Regions from separate parts of the Homo sapiens genome. Here regions 1, 2, 3 and 4 are each linked to region 5. Evidence: fine-mapped expression QTL. A gene starts in region 5. Each other region holds a variant in brackets. All regions are shown on one strand. Distances are from middle to middle.

What was found.
Region 1: its variant is fine-mapped to the expression of WDR36 in whole blood (TOPMed, PIP 0.98).
Region 2: its variant is fine-mapped to the expression of WDR36 in whole blood (INTERVAL, PIP 0.99).
Region 3: its variant is fine-mapped to the expression of WDR36 in neutrophils (BLUEPRINT, PIP 0.95).
Region 4: its variant is fine-mapped to the expression of WDR36 in prefrontal cortex (BrainSeq, PIP 0.95).

Annotation. Positions count from the first base shown.
Region 1 is chr5:111,124,454-111,129,581 of GRCh38, forward strand. It overlaps WDR36 (WD repeat domain 36), which reads left to right. Exons shown (of 23, transcript NM_139281.3): 22 at 1,155-1,342; 23 at 2,281-5,128. The coding sequence ends at 2,430. Among named protein-coding and RNA genes, the nearest start is that of WDR36, 35 kb to the left of the region's middle. The variant T/G (reference allele first, on the strand shown) is at 2,140.
Region 2 is chr5:111,360,306-111,365,433 of GRCh38, forward strand. All of the region lies in intron 2 of CAMK4 (calcium/calmodulin dependent protein kinase IV), which reads left to right. Among named protein-coding and RNA genes, the nearest start is that of CAMK4, 140 kb to the left of the region's middle. The variant A/G (reference allele first, on the strand shown) is at 2,749.
Region 3 is chr5:111,168,311-111,173,438 of GRCh38, forward strand. No RefSeq gene overlaps it. Among named protein-coding and RNA genes, the nearest start is that of CAMK4, 54 kb to the right of the region's middle. The variant A/AGTGTGTGTGTGTGTGT (reference allele first, on the strand shown) is at 1,977.
Region 4 is chr5:111,133,405-111,138,532 of GRCh38, forward strand. No RefSeq gene overlaps it. Among named protein-coding and RNA genes, the nearest start is that of WDR36, 44 kb to the left of the region's middle. The variant A/G (reference allele first, on the strand shown) is at 3,030.
Region 5 is chr5:111,089,583-111,094,710 of GRCh38, forward strand. WDR36 (WD repeat domain 36) reads left to right here and starts at 2,766. Exons shown (of 23, transcript NM_139281.3): 1 at 2,766-3,036. The coding sequence starts at 2,875. RefSeq lists an enhancer at 2,616-3,055.

The DNA.
Region 1 (5,128 bases), 35 kb after region 5:
TGACTATATTTATAATAAGGAGATCCTTCTTGTTGTGAATTAAATGTAAAAGTTTTGTTTGTCGTTTTTGTAGCAAGTAATTTGCAAGTCTTTTGTTTTTATTTATAATTTGTAATTCAGCGGACTGCTTAGGTGATTTCATATATTCCTAAATTATTTTATTAAAAAGGAAATGTTTTAATCTGTCTGTTGTGTTCATATATTTAAATTTCGAAGGCTACAGTCTGTAGCTAATAGTGATTAGCCATAAGAACTGTAATCATTTAAAAAACTGTAGTCACTCTCCTAATAATTTTAACTTGTCCTCTTGTTTTGATTCAAATGCTTTTGTTTTCATACCGAGATTACTTGAGTCCACATTAGCAAAAGTCAGAGAATGATACTGATGAGCCCTTGTAAATGACTTGTTATGTTTATGGGGAGACAAAGAAATAAAAACACTATTGTTTACTATATACTGAAGGATCTAAAAGTGATTAGACTTTTGTCATTGGTGATACTCTTTTTCAGAAAGCTAAAGCATAGTCATTGCAGTTCTCAAATGACTCATAAAAATAGCTGTAAGTGTACTGAGTGTGTTTTCCTAGGGTGCATATGAAACAATTCTTCTAGGGAAAAGAAGTAGGTTTGGGCTGGGTAAGAATAAGGGATGGGGTCTTCCCCCTCTGATTTTATATATTCTGTACTGTTAGTAATATAGTTCCTAATGATTATGTACTTTTATAACTTTATAACAATAGAAAAGAAAAATTATTTTACCTCATCAGATTCCCAATGCTAACCACTATTAATACTTTTGTATGTATCGTTATAGGCTTCTTAATTAGGATTTACTCTGAGAGAAGATATATGAGCATTTTAAAATTCTAACGTGCCTGTTGCAAGGCATTAGATTTTCTTTATTAACAGGAAAAAGGTTTAAATTACAGAAAAAAAATGTGTTTTGAGTACTTTCTCTTATATTGGTGTCATCGTTTGTACTGATTTTCAATTATTTTGGGTTTCATTCTACTACATAATATGAAAAAATTAACCCACAGGAAGAATTTCCTGTACCATTTAAATATATCCTATTTGGGGTATAAAAGGAAAACTGTAATTTTCTAAGTTAAATGATTATAATCAAGTCATAACTGGATTAAAATTTAATGCAGATGACACTGCTCTCAACCTTCTGAAAGAATCAGGCCCATCAGGAATTGAAACAGAGCTGCGAAGCTTGTCTCCTGATTGTGGTGGGTCCATAGAAGTTATGCAGAGCTTCTTGAAAATGATTGGGATGATGCTGGACAGAAAGCGTGATTTTGAGTTAGCCCAGGCATACCTTGCATTGTTTCTAAAGGTAAGTCTAATGTAAGACAGTACTGCCCAGCTTGTCTTCTTCTGGGGCAGTGCTATCTAACAGAACTTTCTGCAAAGATGGGTATGCTGTATATCCATCCTTTCCAGTATCATAGCCACTTGCCACATGTAGCTATTGAGTTCTTGAAATGTAAATAGTGTGATCAAGAAACTGGATTTTTAATTTTATAGAATTTTAATTAATTTAAATTTAAATAACCGCATGTGGCTAGTGACTACCACATTGGACAGCTAGACAGTGCAGCTTGGGAGTCTTGTTTTGTTTTTTTACTCAACTGCACAATAATTTTGACTTTACCCCCTGACATTTTTATGCTATCTGCTTGATCCAATGTGCTGAACCATTAACTTTTCTTTTTTTAGTGGTTAGTTACATTTTGGAAGTTTTTTGTGATTATGAATAGAAAGTTGGGTTTGTTTGTTTTTTTTTCTACTACTGAAATCAAAATGTTCACTTCTATCATTATTAAAGGAGTTTTGATCATTTGACAATAAGACTGTTACTTTTATGATTAATATAGTGGTGAACTCATGTTTTGAGGGTCTACTTTAGTGGTATAATGTGTTGAAGGAGGTAGATGATGCCGATTTTTGGTGATAATAGATTTGATTCTTTATCCCATTTATACCTAAAATGAGTTCACTTGATCTGATTATTTAAAAGTATCAGGACTGTCCTTAGGTGGAGAGGAGTGATGACCACTTTAATTCTACCAAGGAAGTCACAGTATCATAAAGGACCTTATAATAAAAAAAGTTTGATAGAGGAGGGGAAAA[T/G]GGGAGATAGTAATAAACCAGCGCTTAAGAAAACAAATATTCACCTAGTGTCTTTTGTGGTTCCTTGGTAGAAAAATTGAATCCAGATTAGGTAAAATTTTAATTTTCTTAAATGTTCAATCATCATATTTTTCTTTGCAGTTACACCTTAAAATGCTTCCTTCAGAGCCAGTACTCCTAGAAGAAATAACAAATTTGTCATCCCAGGTGGAAGAAAACTGGACCCATTTGCAATCACTCTTCAATCAAAGCATGTGTATTTTAAATTATCTCAAAAGTGCTTTGTTGTAAAAATAAATTTGTGACTAAACAAAGACTTTCATATTAAATGGGTTCAATTGAACTCATTTCTTATTTTCCAAGTGTCAATGTGAAAAGAAAATAAATGCTAGCACTACTGACTAGTCAGTATATCTCCACTTTAAATGCTAAATACTTTCTTGAAATAAAATCGCACCTCCCGGCCAGGCATGATGGATAATGCCTGTAATTCCAGCACTTTCAGAGGCCAAAGCGGGAGGATTGCTTGAAGCCAGGAATTTGAGCCCAGCCTGGGCAACATAGCAAGCAAGATCCCATCTCTACAAAAAGTTAAAAAAATAAATTACACCTGCCTTTTGTTTTGAAGACTTAAAGAATCTGCTCAAATGATTTATTTTCTGAGTCTCTTCACATTAACTTTTATATGATTTTTAAAAAATTATTACCTGCTTATATTTTTTGAGTATCTGTTTCATATAAAGAGATGCTGCATGTTCACTGTGAAGTATTGCTGAATTAAATTGAAAATGTCAGATAAAACTGATACATGATGTAGTTATAAAAATGCTGTTATGAAGAAAAAAGGAATGCTTTTTTCCTCGGTGGCCTTTGATAAAAATATGAATGATTGACTCTCAGAGTTGGAGGATAAACTAATCATCTTCTAGCACAGCCCTGTTGTGTTGCAGGAGAGGAATCAGGCTAAAGTCTGCTGGTATTTCAGTGACAGATTAAAACTTTCTAACAGTGGCCTAGTGCTTTCTCCATTGTAATGTACTGAAAGGAAGTTGTTCATGGATCAGAAATGTGGGAGGCCCTTCCTTGCCCAAGGCAAGTCGCTGTAGATGGTTAAACTGATACCAAGGATAGGTAAGGGAAATTCCAAATTCCATTGGAAGATGGCCTTTTACTGACACTGCAGACATGTAGATAACAATAGTTTAATGTCCTCTGAAAAGGTAAAAATTCCATAAATCCTTGCAAACAATTTTTAGCAATATTGTTTATTGCTACCACAGCCAAGAATGGGTATTTCAAAGCCAGGGTTTTTTTTATTTTGTTTTGTTTTGTTTTTTTTTTTTTTTTTTTGGCTACACTTTTTTGGGGGGGACCTTTTAATTTGGGAAGAAAATGCTGAGTATACTTTTCTTTCACAACCATTGCAAACCCAGGTAGCCCTGGAGTTTTCTTTTTTTCTCATCATCATTGTTTTGTTTTTTTTATGGTTCAAGACTTTTGCAATACATGAATTAAAAATAAGCAGTTCTTTAAAGCATAGCGCTCTAAAAACTATTCTTAGTTTATACCCTCAAAAGTTGGGTCTTTCATGAAACACAGTGGTTTGAATATGAACACCAGTAGCATTCTCGTTCGTTGTTAGGGTAAGAGAGTTTTGTAGAATGATCTCCAAAAGAAGCAGTCCTCAAAAGGCATTTACCAGTGATATCTTTTAATATTCATGTTTTTATTTAATGATGTAAGATAGAATTAATAAACTACTAAGGAAATAAGCCAATGTGGTTATTGTACTCAATTTCGTTTTTCTTTTAGAAATGTGTATTGACTTATTAAAGCCACTGACAGAAATGTTAATCATGACTTAAGTTCTAATTTAAAAAACTATTTTCCTCTTTCCTAAATACTATATTCTAAATTGGAATATGGCAAAATCCCAATATATAATTCTATACCTAGTAAAGATTGTAAATAACTAAAACAAAATGATAAGAGCTGTGAACTGAAATTGTATTGCTTACAGAAATCATGAACCGAATTTTCTTCTCTTTTTAAAGTGAGCATAAAGACTTAAGTGTATTGTTACCAGAGATATATTTAGATAGAATACATCATTTTGGCAGGTAATCTTCTAGAACCTTTCATGTACTGTTTCCATCAAGGGAGGGAAAGAAATAGAAAATATAATTTTATCTATATTTTCCTTAAAATATATCAATCTGTGCACACTCTTTCAGTTTTTTAATTACTCATGTAATATATGACTACATTTTGCTTGTGTGCTTTTTGAAAACCATCTTCAGTCCCAATATCCTCTGTAGAAGTAATAGTTTTAACTCTCCTAGATCTTCTTTTAGAGTGTTTTTATGAGTGTTTAATGTAGGAATGTGTATATATTATCTACAGCCACAGGAAATGTATAGTTACGATTTTTACATACGTGTATGTATATTATTGTACAACTTGCTATTTCTACTTGGGAGTTTTTTATTTTGGTACATTCACATTTACCTAATCTCTTGTGCACTGTCCAACAGTACTTTGCCTATAATAGACACTTAAGGAAGTTTTCCTTCTTTTTATTCCTTTATAATTACAAACAATGCTGAAAGGAACATCATCCTACATGAGCCCTTTTTGTACATATAAGGCTCTCTCTGTGGTATATGCTTAGGATTTGAATTTCAGGCCAGAGTATAACCATTTTTAATTTGAAGAGATACTTCCATTTGGGTTCCAGAATGGCTGTATCAAGTTACAGTTCCCCTGAGCAAGATATGAGCATCTGCTTCCCCATGTAATTAATGACACTTGCTATTGGATTTTTGTAATTTAATTACTCTGAAAAAATTATTTTGGTTTTAAATCAGAAATTTCTCACTAGTGAAGATGGACATATTTTTGTATGTTTATTTTAGAACATATAAACATTTGTTAATTTTCTTTTTCCTCTCATTTTTCTATTGAATGATTTGTCCTTTTATCTCATGGA
Region 2 (5,128 bases), 270 kb after region 5:
CCAGGGAAGCGTGGTGAGCATGAAGAGGCCACATACCAGGGCCACTGCCAGATGCTGTCTGCAGTAGAGACCTGGATAGGTCAGGAAATCTACAGCTACAGATGACTAGGGACAGATCATGTGCTCACTGGCTCTATGGGAGAGGCCAATAAATACTGAACACACACTCAGAGACCAAACCAGTCCAGGGGTCACAAGCCCCTTGGCCACCATATCCTTTGAAACCGGACAGTCTTGGAAAATATCAGAGATGGAGAAATAATAGGGCATAAACATGGAATGTGTGCATACTACCCAATTAACTCTTACAAGCTTTTAAACTGTGAGCAGTTTTACTCAGAAGAAGAGACTTAACAGACATGCTGATGAGAGAGTGCTTTGAGGATGTGCACACCACTGTATGGAGAAAGATGCTGGGAAGGACTGAGCTGACACACTTTTGTTTATCTGGTCTTTCAGAGAAAAGTGAAGCTCTGGGTTCAATTCATGTTAAAATGCTACCTCAGAAAATCTAGACTTCTACATCTAGAAAGAATATATTGCTATGGGGCAACACTGACAAAGAAATTTTTTTTATCAAACCTCAAATCATTAAGATCTCTAGAATCTCTGTCTTTCCCATTCTAAACCAAGAGTATGATTATATTATTTTTTGGTTCAACATTAATTTCTTCTGTACTTTTCTGGTCATGAATAACTCTAGAAGAACCATGTGAGAGCCTCTCTTTCCACCAAGTTTTTAGCATTCATGAACAACATTAGCCAGGTTCTTTGAAAAAGGTCTGAATTGTCCTTGAAAGAATAGGCAGTGAGCTAAGCTTTCTTCTAAGAGCATCCAGGTTTTTATTTTTTCCATTGAACCCTAAGATGTAATTGATGAAGCTTAAAATGTTAATACTTTCAGGAGTATTATTTTTATTTTTATTATTTAACAGTATACAAAATCATAAGCTTTTTTGGCTTTGTAACTAATAGAAAATCACTTAGTTTTAAGGATCAAGGAAAAGATCAAAGGAATATCTCAGGGTCTCTGAGTGTATATAATATTGTGCCCCTTTAATCACTCAAATTAAAGTTTGGGAATTGTGCACATAAATCATTGTTGTTTGATTGAAATAATATACAATGAAAACCTATATTTCATTATTTTCATGGCTTCTTGATAATTTAAAAATCTTGGTCATATGAAATGGTCATAAAAATTACCAAAATTACTGTCTTTACCATATAAAAATTACTAAAAGGCACTAAGAAGAAAGGACGGAGTATATTACACCTCTGTCAGACTTGAATATATAAAGGACATGGTTGATACCCAGGTTTATGGTCAACTTAGATGTGACCCTGGTGGTTGACAGTGATTAGTAAACATATGAAATTGTCTTAAAACCTCCCTAAAGTTTAAACAGGACAGTGCAGCTCTTAGTCTTCAGAAAAGGTGAGAGAAGGCATTTATTTAAGTGAAAATAGGCATTAGTTTTCTTTTTGATTAACCTCAGGCAGGAAGATTATATTAGGATACAGTTTAGGATTCTGATGAAGTTGTCATTCACTTTTAGAAAATTTTTTAGAATAACAATAAAAATAAAATTGTGTTTCATGTTTAGTAGATACTTTCTCTGACTGGGGTGGAACATTTTCATAAATCCCTATATTTCTAAATTTAGTATGCTGCAATTGTAGTGCCTTCTCTGTTAAGAATTAAAAAATTGGAAACAGAAGATTAGAAATGCTCACTTTGATTTGAAAAGTCATTCTAGGAAAGGCACTGACATTTAGTGAACGTTTCACAGGGACTAGGAAATTTCACACATACTCTTATTCAATCCTTAAAACAATAATATTCCAGAATAACAATTATCCCCATTTTACACATGATGAAATTGAAGCAGTCCTCATATAGATTAAGGGACTTGATTAAAGACTCTAAATGATCAAGCCAGGATTCAAATTGAATTCTTTAAAAAATGTACAGACAAGGATGCTGATTATAGAATATATTAGTAATAAATCTTAAGGAATCATTCATGTCTAACATTAGGGCTAGGCATTGATGACATTGGGCCTTAGGAAGGTGTTTTACATTCTGCTTATGGATATTAGATATTCATAAAATTTTTATTATGTTTTTGTGTAAAAGATAACAAAATTTCAAATATTTTTATATTTGAAAATGTAAAAAGAAGTATACATACATATCTGAAAACAAATAAACCAAAATGCTAATGATTAGTTGTGTTACAATGGTGGATATATTCCTCACTCTTTTTATATTTTCTATATTTTTAAATGTGACTATGATACTTCTAGAAAAATATATAATATGTGTTGATTTCCTTCTATCCCTGACAACATGAATCTTAAAAAATAATTTGGGAGGCTTAACATTAATTCTCTCTTTGTTAATCAGTTTCTTTTTCATAAGACCATGCTGATGCTGGCACCTTCTTGGGAAATATGAGGAGTAAAGACCCAGCCAGGCTCTGTGCCCATGGAGGGCACAGAGGCAAGTCAAAATATCCACAGCTACATCCATAGAATTCTTTTCTGCTTACCAAGGATATCATAGTTGCTTCTTTGAGAATGGATAGTACATTCCAATTCTCACCATTATCATTTTCTAATCTCTATCATTTCATTCTCTTTTAATCACTCTGGTTGTGTTTGATACAAATGATGGAACACTCAAATTAAACGCAAGGTGTGCTGTTGGAAGGAAAAGTACGGGATTTCTATCTGGCAGCTATA[A/G]AAGCTCTATAGCCTGAAATGGGGGAGAAGAGTGAGCAGGAGTATCAGTACTTGCTGCAGTGGATTTAGAAGGTCAGTAACTTCACCTGTGCATTAATAATTTATATTTTTCCAAGTGTTCTTCACTTACCTTGAAAGAGAATCTAGAGGCTCTTTGAAACAGACATTCTCCACTCCACTGGTGTCAATAACATGAAAAAATGTCATGTAGACTTAAGTGGCAGGATGAGAACTGACCAACCAATTCTAATCTCATCTAACTGAAGCTTAATGTTAAACCAGAATTTTTTTTCTTTGAGCTGCCAGCATTTTGTATTCAATCACCAGCCTCCATACCTCATTCATTCATTTAACAAGTTATTAAATGCCAGGTATTGGTAAATAACGCCAAAGATAGCATATGTAGAAAACAGACAAGATCCTTTCTGTCATAGAACTCATGCTCCGATGGAAGAAATAGATGATGAATTAGTAACTAAATGATAACATAGCTTTTTGTGACTGTTATAAAAAATTGAATGGTATGACTCACCGTGTGTGTATGTGTGTATGTTGTATGTGTGTTAGTGTGTAACTACTTTTGATGGAGTGGCCAGGAAAGGCCTCTAGGTGACTCTCAATGAACCAAGTGAAAAAAGAGGCCTGATGGAAGAGGGAACAGCAAATGCAAAGGCCTTGAAGCTTGGTCTAGTTGAATGGCCTGCATATGAAGGACAGTGACATCAGACCAATAGGGTGAGGCCAAGCCATCCTGTTTTAAGGTCTATGGCAAAGAGTTTATACTTACTCTAAGCACAGTGGGACTCCAACAAAGGCATTTAAGCTGAGAGTAACATGATCTGATTTACATTTTAAAGATATCATTCTGGATGTTGTGTGTAGAAGGACTGAATATAAAGGGTAAGGATCAAAGCAGTGAGGCAAGTTAGGAAATATTATAACATTGCTGTTGCCTTTAAAGTAGGAGAGAAATCAGACCAGAATGGTGACATGAAATAATCCATTTTATTTCCTCTACTCCCAGGTGAAGAAGTGAAGAAAGAGTGCAGAGGCAACAATAGAGAGGTTTTCTGTGAAGGGAAGCAGAGATATGCTTTGGAAGTGGGAGGGGATGGTAAGGGACTGAGAGACCTTTTTAAAGATGAGAGTTATTAATCAGGATCATGCTCGTGTGTTCTAGATCCCAGGGAGATACAGATAAAAGAAGCAAGAGAAAAAAGTGCTGGGTAAAGACATGAAGATTCTTCTTCTGCTCTATCTATCAGGTTCTTTTCCTCTTCTCCCTGCCTCTGCTAAGCCCAACCTCTTTCTGTTGAGAGTCGGGCATCAGCCAAATTCTTTGTATTAACTTTGTTTAGCTTGTTATATCTCCCAGGAATATTTTAAGCCTATTTCATTCATTGCAAAATAAAAAGACTGTTTCCTGTGAAAAGAATTTCTGGTATCTGCAAGCACATAGGTTTGTATTTAGAATCTAAGAATGAAGGGAGAGAGGTAACTCCCTTTGGAGATGCTGCTCTGTTCTGAATCTACGTGTCTTACAAAGGCTTCAAGTTCTGAAATAGAAGTGTCTTTCTGGGTTAAGCTTCCCAGAGGCACTCTTGTTTTGCCTAGACTCTTATTTCAATCCTGGGCTTCCTCCTCTATTGGAAATCCCTTCTTTTTTCTTTTTGTTCTTCCCAATGTCTTAGAGTCTGCAGGGAATAGGAAGTGGCTAGTAACAGAGCTATAAAATATTGGGTTTTACAATGCTCAAAGACAAGCTTATCTGATGATTACAGCCTGTCTTCCCATACTGATCAGAACAAGGTTGGCTTCATGTTAGTCAGTGTTAAATGTAATATGGAGTATTGGTTTTCCTTACAATATCAGTCTCCTTCTTGTTCCAGCACACCATATCCAATGCTTGCTGCTGCCCTCACCTCTAAACCGTCACCCACCCTGTGCAGTGATCCTTTCCATTCTCTTCTTTGTTGAGCCTAAACTCACACTGAAAAATCTGGGAAAAGAGCATCTGAGACAGAGTACTATCAAGTGCCAAGTGAAAGGACCCAACAGTGGAGACTATCCTGGCTTCCTGGAAGATGAGCAGTGAGCCGGTGTAAAAGAAGAGGAAGAATACTAGGAGAGTTCAGCACAATGGACAGGGCCAAGGCATTATTAGTATATACTAGTGGACCATAGAATCTAAGCCAAGTAGGAGCTTTAAAGATAGGTAGTAGAAATCAGAGAGTGTAATGTTTGAAATCAAGATTTGTGATGTGGTTCAGTTGATGGTAACAAGAAGGCCTGAGATGTTGTCATGGAAATGAGTTGCTAAGGAAGAATCGAGGAAGTGGTAAAAGAACTGAGAGGCAAGAATGTTGAATGAACCATCCAT
Region 3 (5,128 bases), 79 kb after region 5:
TACGTATTTATATGTTGTATTTTTGTGCTTCTCTTGTATCCTGTTTCTCTTCATATGTGTAGCTTGGACTTCCTCACAAAATGGTGGTCTCATGGTAGCATGATTTCTTATATGGTAGCTGGTTTCCAAGGAGAACTATTCTCAGTAGCGAAGTCAGAAGGCAGGGATCTCTTAAGGCCCAGCCTTAGATGTTATATGGCATCACTTCTGCTTCAGGTCATCCAGCCAGATTCAAGGGTATGGGAAACAGATCTCATTTCCTAATGGCAGAGTGGGAGAAGTAACATTGCAAAAACGCATGTAGAATGAGAAATATTGTTAGGGCCATCTTGGAAAAGATAATCTACCACACTTGCCTTATGAGAACCTAAAGCCATTCTCATTATTTCTCTGATTTCTTGCTGCAGAGCACTTCATGGGAATGACTGAAGGCTTAATTGCAACTGCACAGCAATTCCATGTCTCCCTCTGCTTCCCCAGCTTCCTCTATGAGATTGTGGCTGAGACCACTCCCTAGTAAACTTCCTGCACACAATTCTCCACCTCAGATTCTGTCTCTTGGGAATTAACCTAAGAAAAATGTTTTCGTGTATTTTTCCCTAGTGAGAGAACTGCTCTTCTGTCAGAGACATCTCTTTATTCTCTAGGAAGATAAGCACTAGGGTAGGCATGCAAAGGAGTCATTTTTGAATATCCAAATTAGAGTTTTTCAATCTATATCAGGATAATAATATTGAAATCCAGTATTTGTTGTGTGAGAGGAATTGTAAATTTCAAATTTTCTTTGCACATTTTATTTTTATATATGAAGAGACTAGCTGGATGTGATTCCAGATTTTAGAATTAATTTAAAGAGATAATGTAAACAGAATGCAAGGAGGATTCCATTCACACAGAAAAGAAAGTCAGAAAACAGTGTGACTCCCTCCTGGACCAAGACCCTGGAATGTGGTTAGTATCCCCAGAAAAAAATGGGACAGTCCCAGAGATAAGTGGCTTACTCCTTGCTTTTTTGGAAGACTAGAAAACTTCAAACTGTTTTGTAGATAATTGATTAGTAGCGGCTAAGGGAGAGATTTAGGTAAAGAAACAGACAAAAGTACTGCTCTCTGAGTCTGTCTTTGCTCTCATGCACAATAAAAGGTATCTGCATTTCCTGCAATCTCCCATAGGGAGCTCAGTGTTAGGCAAGCAGCAAGGCTGATATTGCAAGGGAGTGAAGTTGTCATTATTTCTTTATACATCTGAATAGTGGAATATAGTCATTCTATCGACAGATGCAATCTCTGCCTCAAGGTTTTTACAGCCTACTTATTCATATTTATAGTTAATTTCAATGTTTTAGGGCAATAGCTAAGCTAGAGATAGCCACTGTGTGCTAGTGGATCACAGAGGAAGAACATTTGTACATCACTGGGGACCCTGGTTGAAGATGGTAACTAAGTTGAGTTCTGAAAGATGAGTAAAAATAGCTAGAGATGGGTTGATAGGTGCAGCAAATCACCATGGCACACGTTTACCTATATATCAAATCTGCACATCCTGCACATGTATCCCGGAACTTAAAATTAAATTAAATTAACACTTTAAAAAATAGCTAGAGGAAAGAGAGCAAACCAGGAGCAGTGGCTCATGCCTGTAATCCCAGCACTTTGGGAGGCCGTGGCAGGAGAATTGCTTGAACCCAGGAGTCCGAGTCCAGCCTGGGCAATACAGTGAGATTCCATCTCTAAAAACAGAAAGAGAAAGAGAGAGAAGACATTTAATACACACAGGACAACTAAACAAAGGCACATTGGGAACAATAAACTAAGAGCCCAAACTGAAGTGGTAGCTTTGGATTTAGAGAAAGAAATAGTTCAATGGGGTATAAATAACACAATTTAGTGATTTGTTGAATTTGGAGAGCAAGAGAGAAGGAGGGGTCTAGGACAACCCAAGGTTTGTATTATTAAGAGAGATGGTAAATTTGTGAG[A/AGTGTGTGTGTGTGTGT]GTGTGTGTGTGTGTGTGTGTGTGTGTGTTAGCATAAGACTAAACAGCTTTAAAAAGATAACTGACAATAATCCAGTAGCTTACCTGAGATAGGCCTTTAAATACAGCTTCTTACACCTTAGTTCAAGGTCAGCATTCCAGGTTGGTGCGTAGCTCTGCTTCTTATTCAGTAACCCAGGTTCCTAGGTTGCTCTTCCATTCCTTAAAGCCTTGTCATCATCTGCATTGAGGCTGGGTTCCATAGATTCCAGATGTTGCAAAGAGGAAAGAAAATGAAACATGGAAGAAACAGGTCTGGACATCTTAAGTCTCAGAGCTGGAAATGGCACACACATTTTTTCACATTCCTTTGAGGAGAAATGAACGTGGTCACAACTAATGTCAAAAAAGACTGGGAAATTCTGTATGTCTGGGAACGTCTATGTCAACTTGCAATTCCATTTCTATGAAGGAAGAAGATAATGGATTTTGGTGGACGGTGAGCAGTCTCTGCTACAGTTAAGTAAATGAAGGTGGCTAAAGAGTTATATTTAAGAGCCATTGAACTGTGAGAGTAGATGAGATCACAAGAGTGTGTGTGCAGATCAGAGAAGAGAGCAAAGAAGGAAGCAGCAACATGTAGAAGAGGAGCTCATGAAAGAGATCACAAAGGACTGTGCACAGATATAGTAGTATAACCTTATCTTTTTTGCTTAGACATTTGTCATTCTTTTTGCCTGCCCAGCATCTAAGCCTTCTTCCTATGTTTGAAGAATTCCTCATCTCATACATTTTGGTAGGAGGAGAAGCCATCTCCTAATATAGAGGTTGAAGATGCTACGTATTTCTCTCCCAGCCTTCCTTGTATTGAGAGTGTGAGCATGTGATGTAGCTCTCTAATCAAATGCATCTGTAAGTTGCAAGCTAGTAACGTAGAGCATGGGAAACTCGAGAAACCTCTGGCAGCAGCAGTGGTTGCAGTGAGATGGAGTTTTCAGGACAGCCATGGCAGTCATGCTATGGCTGTGTCCAGAATCCAGTGCTAGTGATATTGGCAGTACAAACTGAAGTACTTAGTGCATATGTCAGTAATGATGATATTGGTGTTCCAAGCAGACCACTTCTGCTGGATTATTTTAAGTATTGTTTCTGCCTGCATAGCTTGTGAGCACCTTCTCCATCTTCCTCTGAGATTCTTAGATCAATGCAAGATTATTACAATAAATTCTTTTTTTCTTAAATAACCAGAATGTCTTTCTCCTGCAATTAAGAACTATGGCAATACATCTCTTAAAATGCACACTTTTGGTTTTTCCCTTCTATTTTAAGGGTCTTGTGAATACGTTTCAAAATATTGTCTAAGAAGAAAAGCATCTGCTTTTGAGAAAACGTAGAAGATCTAAATTTCTCGAGAAAAATATGGATGTGCATAATTTAGGCACTGGGACATAGGTTGTGGTAATAATCTATGGTTCGTTACAAAAACCCCTACCATAATCAGGCGGGCAAACCTAGAAATCATTATGATTTAGAAAATGTTCTAGGTTTTGTTTCCAGCAATACAAGGCTGGTGGTTTTGTTAAATTGCACGAACACTGGTTTAGATCTCAAGAGAAACTGTACATGTACTTTTAGCAGTGATTAAGTAATGGGAAGTGCAGAAGAAATGTTAAGCTATCAGTTCTTAATAATGCAAATTTCAAACACGATTTTAAATTTGTTTTCCAGGTCAGGTGACTCTTTTGTAAATTAACCTATTCTCATGGGAATCAGTTACACATGTTATATTATATTTCTAATATAAACCAGAAATCTGACAGCACTATTTTGCATTAGGGTTATTTTAAGTGACTTATTCTTTATGCCCCTTACTCCTTACCTTCTCCTAACCCTCTTTTCTGCCTCCTTTTACCAAGACCTTCCTAAGTGAACATCAACTTCTCTATTCCACATTCCCATCACTGGTCCTAGGTTATCCAACCATCTTTTCATTTTTTACTTAAAGAAATAAAAACATTTTGTGGGTTTGAGTGTACATTAAAATTTGCTTATCAAGGCAGTCTTAGCTTTGAGGTCAGGGGATTTTACTAAGCTTTGTTTTTGAGCAAAAAGATGAGGTACAACTAGGAAGAACTGTACTCATTAAACAAAAAAAATACTAAAAAATTTTTAAAAACTTTAATTTTTAGCTAGTGCTACCCTGTGTCTGTGAATTTCAGGGCTGGAATTTAGCCAACCCCTACTTCTCTTATATGGAAATCAGAATATTATTTTTCGGCTATAATGCTTAAGAGTGGAACTGGGCTGATGCCCCAGGGTGCTGAATCGGTATTTATTGTTGATTTAGGCTGCCTCCTTTCCTAGCAATGAGGTTGGGGTGGGGCTTCAGTCCACAGAACAACAGCCCTGAGAGAGTTTGAACCTGTCACACACACAGCTTTTGAAGCCCCACCCCCAAGCCACACCCCCATTTATTTTGTCCTCTAAACCTTGGAATGAGGTCAGAACATGTGGCAAACTTCAGAGCTGATACATAGAACTATGTTGTTTTGATTCTCTCCAGTCCACACCTCAGTTTTTTTCTTTACCTAGGCATTTCTGTTATCTTGAGAATTTACTGAAAAAATGGTTTCGATTCTTAACTGTCCCCCAAACTCCATTGATTTCCTAGTTATTTCTAATGTTTATTTTTATTACCTGAAGACACTTGGAAAGGGTTTTTAAAAGCAGAAATAGGCTCCCAGCAATTTGTTTCCACCCTGTTAAAGACCTTATTAAGTTTATCTCATTAATTTGCTGGCAAAATCAGAGCACAGACTCTGTAAAACTTATCAACACACCATACCAAAAAAAAACAAAAAACAAAAACCACCTAATAATAATGTGAGTTTCTTTAAAGAGCCATCCACAAGTAGATAAACTAGGGGAATAAGTTAATACCAACAGGGACTTAAGCCTTCTTCCTACCTCGGTGCTAGAATCTTGAGATAAGACTGATGGTCTGTTTTTTGTTCTTGAGTGGGTCAATGCTGAAGACATTGAAGAGTCACAATAATTCAGTATTGTTGGAATATCACGCAAGATAATGTTCTTAATAAAAGGAGAAATATAAAGATGAAGGAAAGTGAGTGAGAATGATAAGAAGAAAGGCACAATGAAGGAAAGTAAAACTA
Region 4 (5,128 bases), 44 kb after region 5:
TGACTGTGGGTGACACTGGGAGGGATCTGGAGGTTTCCACCTGCTCCCTGAGGGGAATGAGGGAGGCAGCTGGGAGTAGAATGCCAACAGGCCTGCCATAGAGCCCCAGTGGCAGAGTGTGGACACACCATCCTGGCCCAGGGCCCAGCTGGAAGATAGGCAGAGACTCAGGGCACAGGCTAAGTGGGACTGTGGTCCTGGTCGGGGGAGGTGAGAAGAGGGTCTGGCAACACAGAAGGCACTCACACATAGTGAACCTTCCTTTGTGAGGAAAGAAACAGACATGGTAGGGAATTTGAACATAAAATCTCACAAAATATTTATCCAAAAGAGACTAGGCTAATGTGAAAGAGACTGAGATACTTTTTAATTGGTAATTTTGTTCCCTACCCTAAATCTAGTAATATGAGGGCTCAAGATGAAATTTAATCATTTTGATATATAAAATATTCTTTAGGGATCTTTCTTTCAGTATCTGTGTACTATATGCTGAATTTCCCAATTCCAACCATGCTAATTTCCATTTCCAGCTGAATCTACTAAATGTCTCTGAAAAGGTACGTAAAATATTCAATACTTAGTTTTATCTCTGTGTTGTTAGTGATTTATTGACACTGCAGACATGTAGATAACAATAGTTTAATGTCCTCTGAAAACACAAAAATTCCATAAATCCTTGCAAACAATTTTTAGCAATATTGTTTATTGCTACCACAGCCAAGAATGGATATTTCAAAGCCGGGGGTTTTGTTCTGTTTTGTTTTGTTTTGTTTGGCTGCCCTTTTTTTCCCCCACTATCTCTGGCTAAATTCCAGTCTTTACTATTAATTTATTTTTTCTCATTTGAACTTTCCAAGTATGATGTCTGCCTCATAACTCTGGCCCTGTTTCCTCACTCCTGGCCACACTCTATTCTCTAGAGTAAATATGATGCAAGCCCATTGGGTGACTGAATGGTGGGTGAGAGTGAGTTATCGAAGCCTGGACTCACTTAACCATGTGGATTTAGTTTACAAGAAGCATCATATACCAAACAAAGGAGTCACATACCCGACAGCCTCCCCACCCAGCTCACAGCGCTGTGATCACTCCTCTTTCCTTCCTTCAATCATTGATTTATTCATTCTATCTTCAACAAATACTTAGCTCTGACCCTGTCTCAGATGCTGTTCTATGCTCTTGAGATACTTTAGAAAACAAAACATATAAAAATCCCGGTCCTATGAAGCTTGTATTTTAGCTCATTATTCTTTTATATTCTTTTGCTTAGCCTTTTGACTTGCTCTCTTTTAGAATCAAGATAAAGAAGAAGATGTTTCTAGGCCTTCACACTCTGCAAAGAGTGACTGCCAGGAGTTTCTCCCTTTATTTCAAAATGTGGCATACGTGGGTGTGTGTGTGTGTGTGCACGCACACGTGTGTGCACGTGTTTGTGTGTGTGTACAGGAATTCCCAAATAGCCTCCATATGAAAAAAAAAATGCCTGCATGCTGCTTCACTACCATTCTTGTTTTAACAAAGGGCTTGGTAACTTAGAAAAGCAGTGCATATGAAGAAGTAAAACAATTAAGGAGGAAAAAAAACTGGTTTTTTTTTTCCCTTGGAAGACTCCACCTCTCCATTCTCTGGCTGATAATAGATGGCCAGGCATAGGGAAGCAGAGACTAGGAATTAGCCTTGTAGTTTGTCAGACGTGGCTCCTGGAGCTGAGGGCCACCCCCCAGGGGCCTGGGTGCAGTTTTAGCTCTTGGCACACTGCGTGGAAAGGTGGAGGCAGGGGGCAGAGATGAGATGTTCATCTCTGTTGCTGTGGTGACAAGGAGGTGAAGTGAAGGTACTTCAAAAATGTAAGCTACAACACGTGAGGAAAAAGGTGCCTGTGGAACTGTGTGCTTCTCTCAACCTGTCCCATTCCCTCCTAAATAATCGTGTATGGGGTATGGCAAGATGGAGATCCCAACACACATGAGACAGGGTGCCTGACCCCCAGTCCAGGAGATGAGCCTTGCAGGAGGAAAGGCAGCACACATCTGCCTTCTCGGAGCCAGGGCAGGCTGCACAAAGAGGACAACTGCCATTGATCTTGAACAAAGGGGGTGGGAGGGGCATGGTATTACAGAGAGAGACAGGACAGCATTCAGAGATGAGGCCATGAGAAAGGCAATAGAAAGTCAGGGATGGCCAAAGTCATGCCAGCTGCTACCTCTGGGAATGTGTAGAGGTCAGTGGCCCTGGAACTGGGTACAAAGGAGACTTTATCTGCAATGTTTTGTGTAATTTTAAATTAAACAAAATAAGATAAAACATCAACTACTATTGATTCTAGGTGTTGATGTCTATATATTTTCATACTCTATATTTAGTTTAGTTTTTTTTAATTGTATTTCAATCTTTTTTTTTGTCTAGCTTTTCAAATAGAATGTATTTACACATCTCTAACCATTCATCCATCCATCCATTCATGCTACTTCGTAGATATATCTTGTGTGGCTGACCAGATCTTATTTCCTCTGGAAGGTGGCCTTTGGAAGCTGCAATTGTGTTTGCCACCCAAGTCACTGGACCTTTCCCAAAATTCCAGGCCACCACTTGACCTAACCACATTCATTTCGATGCAAGTCCCTGGCATTGGGTCTTTATGAGGCGCAGATGGTCTCCAGGTCAGCACTGAGCCCTGTCTCTTTCTCTCTGTGCCCAGCTGGCATGAATTGGAAGGCAGAGGAACCGAGGGAGTTCTGAGTCACCTAGCTTGACTGAGTCAGAGATTTCTCCAGGGAGTGGTGGAAAGGGTGGCTCTTGGCAGAAGAGATCCTCATCTCAATGGTGTGGTACTTGCCTGAGATTTCCCAGAAAGCACGAAGAACATCAGGGTGGAGAGTTTCACTCTCAGCGACAAATAGAAATAATCCACTTGATTCCACATGAACTAAGTGTTGAAGAAAAACATAATCTCACATTAGCTTATCTCTTTACCCTTTACCAGAACTCAAAGATGGAAATTACCATTCTCATCCTGCTGGGAAATGACA[A/G]TCATGCAGCAAATACACCATACTTTGTGTCACTTGAAACCAGTTTTATCTATTAAAAAAATACTAATCCTTAAAATATTATTCCTTTATGAAACACAAGGCCTTTTTTTTTCATAGCCTTTGTTGCAGCAAAACTCCTCAATAAATAGCACTGCCCAGAGACAGTTAGGGTAAACTTAGATCATGCAGGAAAGTGTCTGTCACTGTTTGCCTGCATCTCTAATGCCCTTGATGGGTTGGTTTCCTCCTTTTGTGCCAGTGTGGAAGTCTCATTCCCATTGTCTGCCATCAGCTAAATGTCCAAATTTGCTATAGAGCCCATCTCAATTTTGTGCACACAAGTGTTCCATAAATACCTAATTTAGTGGTTTTCTAAGAGTTGTCTGTCCAGTGTTCCCTAGGGGTCCTTCAAATATTTCCAGATGGTCAGCAAAATATGATTAAAAACTATTTTCATAAAACTGTGTTTACTCACAGTATTTCAAGTACAGGAAATATCAACAGATATAATTAATGTCACACTGAGATCCTCAATAATTTTTTAGAAAGTGAAGGGCTCCTTAGACAAAAAATGTTGAGAATCATTGCACCAATTGATTGGTTAGAGAAATACATAGCCTTACCAAGAGGTGCTAGCATATACTAATACCCAATGCTTATCTCTGAAAATGCCTTAAATCTGATGTTCCAAGACATGGAATATGAATCAGTACTGCTCTTCATCCTCTGAGAGAGCCAGTGAGGTCAGGGCTGGTCTCAGGTTTTAAAACTCCATTCAACCTCAGATTTAGTTGGATCAGTCACCTATTGAGTTCAATTAGGACTAGATGGCAAAGTTTAGAATAAAACAATTAGGTCATAAACAAAAATTTTTTAATTAACATAATGAAATGTATTACTCAGAACCAGTTTTAGTTATTTTCAGCAGAAACTACTATTTAAGTACATTAAGGGTTTTTCCAAGTCCCTTGAAGACTTCGTGGCTGAGAACTACGTCTAGAACATCCCAAGGTTCACATGGCTGATACTGGCCCTAGATACTGGAACCTCTGTCCCTGATGCCTCACTGAACAGAGTCCACACAGCATCTGCTTCTCCATGGCACTTACAACTCCTATTGTAATGTTAGTGCATCCATATTGTAATGCATATGTAGTGCATAACATATTGTAATGTTAGTGCATTAGAACAGTCTAGGGCTCAGGCCTATACCCAATGCTGAGAGACGAAGGTTTTGGGTTCTGAGTTCAGGAAGCAGAGACTGTAAATGGGGAATTCCCCAAGCATAGAATAGTGTTCACAAAGTGTTGGGAGTCAAAAGTAGGACAATCCTCCCCTTGGCTGCCCAGCTTCGCAACACACTGGGAAGTTTTCACACTTAAACTTCTAGTAGCAAAAACAGCAGCAGCTATAATAAAATACTGTCCTTCACAGAGGGAAAAACATCTTGCTCTGTGTTTTCCTAAAAGGAGAAACAATTCTCTATTAGTTAAGAATATTTTCTCAGCCAGTGCAATGTGGTGAAACCCCATCTCTACTAAAAATACAAAAAATTAGCTGGGCGTGGTGACGTGCACCCATAGTCCCAGTTACTAGGGAGGCTAAAGCAGAAGAATCGGGAGGCGGAGGTTGCAGTGAACTGAGGTAGAGCCACTGCACTCCAGCCTGGGCAAAAGAGTGAGACTCCATCTCAGAAAAAAAAAAAAAAGAATATTTTCAAGACCAAGTAACAACTTAGTAACCTTGATTTTCACAAGTAGGAATTAATTTTTCTCGTACATCAAGAAATCTAAAAGTAGTTTTTCACAATGTTGCAATTACTCAATGGTCCTGAGAAAGACACAGGCTTTTTTTCCCCTACTTCCTCTGTTTCATTTTTACAACAAGACTTTTTTTCCTTATGTGTGTCATTTTACAGTCTCAAGCTGGCTACCACAGCTCTAGACATCAGACCTCAGAAAACCTAAATCAGGAAATAAAAGAGGCATGGGAAAGATACCTCTGGCCACTATCTAAACACAAAATCAGGATTCTGTTAGAAAGAAAGGGAAAGCAGAGCTCGCTGTTACATTGGCAGTAGACTCTGTCTTCTAGTTCAT
Region 5 (5,128 bases):
TCTTTTTATTCTTTTTTCTCTAAACTTCCCTTCTCACTTCATTTCATTCATTTCATCTTCCATTGCTGATACCCTTTCTTCCTGTTGATGGCATCGGCTCCTGAGGCTTCTGCATTCTTCACGTAGTTCTCAAGCCTTGGTTTTCAGCTCCATCAGCTCCTTTAAGCACTTCTCTGTATTGGTTATTCTAGTTATACATTCTTCTAAATTTTTTTCAAAGTTTTCAACTTCTTTGCCTTTGGTTTGAATGTCCTCCCGTAGCTCATAGTAATTTGATCGTCTGAAGCCTTCTTCTCTCAGCTCATCAAAGTCATTCTCCGTCCAGCTTTGTTCAGTTGCTGGTGAGAAGCTGCGTTCCTTTGGAGGAAGAGAGGCACTCTGCTTTTTAGAGTTTCCAGTTTTTCTGTTCTGTTTTTTCCCCATCTTTGTGGTTTTATCTACTTTTGGTCTTTGATGATGGTGATGTACAGATGGGTTTTTGGTGTGGATGTCCTTTCTGTTTGTTAGTTTTCCTTCTAACAGACAGGACCCTCAGCTGCAGGTCTGTTGGAGTACCCTGCAGTGTGAGGTGTCAGTGTGCCCTGCTGGGGGTGCCTCCCAGTTAGGCTGCTCAGGGGTCAGGGGTCAGGGACCCACTTGAGGAGGCAGTCTGCCCGTTCTCAGATCTCCAGCTGCGTACTAGGAGAACCACTGCTCTCTTCAAAACTGTCAGACAGGGACATTTAAGTCTGCAGAGGTTACTGCTGTCTTTTTGTTTGTCTGTGCCCTGCTGCCATAGGTGGAGCCTACAGAGGCAGGCAGGCCTCCTTGAGCTGTGGTGGACTCCACCCAGTTCCAGCTTCCAGCTGCTTTGTTTACCTAAGCAAGCCTGGGCAATGGTGGGCGCCCCTCCCCCAGCCTTGCTGCCGCCTTGCAGTTTGATCTCAGACTGCTGTGCTAGCAATCAGCAAGACTCCGTGGGCGTAGGACCCTCCGAGCCAGGTGCGGGATATAATCTCGTGGTGTGCCGTTTTTTAAGCCCGTCGGAAAAGCGCAGTATTGGGGTGGGAGTGACCCAATTTTCCAGATGCCGTCCATCACCCCTTTCTTTGATTAGGAAAGGGAACTCCCTGACCCCTTGTGCTTCCCAAGTGAGGCAATGCCTCGCCCTGCTTCGGCTCGCGCACGGTGCGCGCACCCACTAACCTGCGCCTACTGTCTGGCACTCCCTACTGAGATGAACCCGGTACCTCAGATGGAAATGCAGAAATCACCCGTCTTCTGCGTCGCTCACGCTGGGAGCTGTAGACCGGAGCTGTTCCTATTCGGCCATCTTGGCTCCTCCCCTCTCCCCTCTTTTTTAATTTAAAGAACATTTACAAATAATTAGCAACTTGTTCACTTTTAAGTCATACCAAAAACATGGCTGAAAATGTGCACTGCTATTGAGAAATCCGGGGTACAAATGAAAATACAAGTAAGTACAACATGTCAAGGACTAAATAACAAGCTCTCATTCTGTTAGCATCTGCCCCTTAATGATCTTAACATCCAAAGTGTTTGAGGCTTTGTGCCAAGAACTATAAAATAAATCAAGATTTTTTTTGTTCAAGAATGTATGAGTCAGGTATTCAAATTAGCTAACAAGTGACTTTTGTTTCATAATAATTACATTTTAGAACTGGAAGGAACCCGAGAGAGTACACTGATCTGTGTAGAGACAGACCCTCTTTATCTCTTTCAAGTACATTTACATTAGTAAATATACCCTTTTTATCCCTCTCAAGTACTAGTATAGTTACGTTAGTCACTCGACCCAAACCTTAATAGGCTGCCAAAACGTTTTCATAAACGAAATGAAATGGAAATAAAACAGTAAGAGAAGAGGTTATTCCATATGTTGAACTTTGGTCCTGGGCTCTAAGCTCACCACTGTTTTAGTTAATGTTCACATGCTCAGAGATTGTTCCCCAAACCTACATCTTGGTAAGGCAGCTGGCTCCTGAGGAGTGAGGCGTCTTGACACCCACTTCACTGGAATCAGTCTCCTTCAGCATCCTAAGGCACTCAGCTCTAATGAACTGCCCGGACTCCCGTTTGCATTATGATAAGCTCCTCTTTAGAACCTCTACTGTCTGCTTTTGACAGCCGACCTCAAGGAATACTGACTTAATCCAGGAATCCCAATAACATTTAATATTTATCTTCCTTTTCTGGGAGGAATCTACACTTATCCAAGTTGCCCAAGTGAGCAGTTCCCTCCCCACAAGTAATTAGTTCTACTCCCCAGAGGGTCTGTGAGTGAATCCCTCTGTCAGTTTTGAAATGTCCCATTATAGTTTTCATCTGTAAATATGTCAATATGTATCCAAAAGATGAGGATCTTTAAAAACGTAATCATAATGCTACTATCATATGTAAAAATGAAACATAATTCCTTAATATCATCAGATATCCAGTGTTTAAATTTTTCCAGTCTCATGTTTTTGTACATTTTTAAATAATCACATGTTTAAATCGTTTCCATCTCCAAGGCGTCGACCTCCCCTCCATTCTCCTGGGCGTCGCGCTTCCCTCTTTGTTTCCCGCCCTTGCGGTTCTGTCGGAACCTAACGAGCTTCCTTCCACCGCAAAAGAGCTGGAGAACAATGCTAGGCAACGTGCTGGAGACCTTGGCCCTCGGAACCCAAGTCACGCCTCCCATGTGAGCTCTGGAGGGAGAACTTTATGTGTTGCACTGAGGGCAGTCTCCGGAAACGCGATTCGCAGCGGGCGCCGGAAGCGGTGTTGTGTCTGCAGCTCTGGCAGAGGACTGTTCCACTAGACACGCTGAAGGGACTGGGTACGTGTTTTCCTTCAGGACCAGAGCTGAGAGGAGCTGGGATCGCGGCGGCAATGGAACGGGCCTCAGAAAGGCGCACGGCCAGCGCGCTTTTTGCGGGGTTCCGGGCCTTGGGACTTTTCAGCAACGACATTCCACACGTGGTGCGGTTCAGCGCGCTCAAGCGCCGGTTCTATGTAACAACCTGCGTGGGCAAGAGTTTCCACACCTATGACGTGAGTGACTTCTTTTGTTAGCTTCCCAGGAAAACCACCCTCCTTGGCCTCTAACTCTGTCCTGGAGCAGTCCGGTTCTCCCTTCCCATTTACCACGGGCTTCCCTTCTTTAACCCCTCCCTGTCCTATTAATATTTCGCCATCCGGTCACGTCCACGTGCTGATTTGGCACTTGCAGTCCTCCTGGGGCGTGTTTCAGAGGCAGCCTGGCCAAGGGGAAACTGCTAGAGAACATCTCAGTTGTATGGCAGTAATATTTGTTCAGTGAATATTTATTGACCTTCCCTTGAAGGTGGAAACATAATTAAGACAAACCTCTACCTCTTGCATTCTTAATGAGAGAGAAAAACATGCACGCTATTACGTTATTGGTGACACGAGCTGAGTTAGAAATTCACTCTAGGTAGAATACATTGGGAGAACCGGAGATGGTGAGATTAATTACCGTTAGGGAAAATATCTAATAGCAATCAGTTATTTTCAACTAACGCAAAGTGTCTGGCACTGTCACTCTAAGCCTTGCAGCCGTTTCTTTGCAACATAGGTGTCATTATACCGTAGCACCTTTATATAATCTATTAAAGTAAATTTCAGATAAATCACTTGTTAGTGATGATTTTTTCTCCTATAACAGTTCATCGATCATTGTAATAGTGTCTCTTGTTTACTTGTTTCTTTTGTCTTCTCCGAAAGAATGTAACCTCTGTGAGAACAGAAACCTTGATGAGGAGGATGATAATAGTCAGTGTTAATTAAGTACTTTCTTTTCTGGAAAACAGGTAGAGTTGTCTCTCTTGGAGGATTGTGAATATCAAATGGCTTATTAGCAAAAAGAGCTGGGAGGTAGGAACTAGTTGAGTTAGTGGAAAAGGAAAGTGAGGGCAGAGCTGAGGTGAAGAGCAATTGGGTTTCTCAGAGTCTGAGCTGGTAATGGAGACAGGGTGGGTTAGAACCATATTAATCATGTGAAAGTATTTAGTGTTACCATTCTCTGCACTTGTTCCTTGCTTGCTAACTTTTGCTTTTGCTGGTTAATGTTTTCTTCCTTGAAATGTAATTTTTCTGAGTTTATTACTGAAATAACTCTTGAAATCTTGTCTTTGGTACAGTGTCTTTCCTGACACTGCATTACACACAGACACAGGTGTTTTTCCCTATATTCTACTTCCAAAGAAACCCTGTGGTGAGGAGAGTAACATATTTGTACATTTTATAAAGTTAACAATTTACTTACTGTGTGTTGACATTTAGTCATAATAAAGATGGCTTTTAAGTTCTCCTCTAGTTCTAACACTGATGATACATTCGTAACATCATGGCATGTAAATGTTCTTTACCCAGACTGTACACTGCTCAGATTAACCAATGCATTGGGCTGTGACCTCTAAAACTGAAAATACTTGGGAGTAAAAAGAAAAAAAAAAGGAGCTAATGAACCTAAGTCACTAATTGGGTCTACAAGTGCTCTATCCCATGACTATGGCTATATATGCTGTCCCCAGTCAGACTTCCTACAGTCCTACAGATTAGTTTCTTCTACAGGGGAAACTAGACAAGTTGTGAATAGGTGGTGGTAGTGATGGTAGTAGCTATCATGTATTGAGCAGTTACTATATGACTGGCCCCATTCTGTTTTACACAAATTTACTCATTGAATCCTCATAACAATCCCATAAAGTAAATAAATACCTGTTTTACAGATGAAGAATTTGAGGCACAGGGAGCTTATTTTTCCAGGGTCATACAGCTGGATCAGTAGCCATGATTGGGGTCAGCAAATTACAGTCTGTAAGCCAGTCTAGCCCACTGTTTGTTTTTGTATGACCCAGGAGTTACGAATGATTTTGACATGTTTAAATGTTTGTGGGGGCAGGCTGGGGGTAGGGAGAAGGATATTTCATGACATGAAAACTATGTGAAAATCAAATTTCAGTATCTATAGATAAAAGTTTAATATACCCATGCACATTATTTATCTATTACGTATGGCTGTTTTCATGCTACGGTGGCAGAAGTGAGTAGTTGGCAACAGAGACCACATGCATTGCCTGCAAAGCCTAAAATATTTAATATTTGGCCCATTATAGAAAAC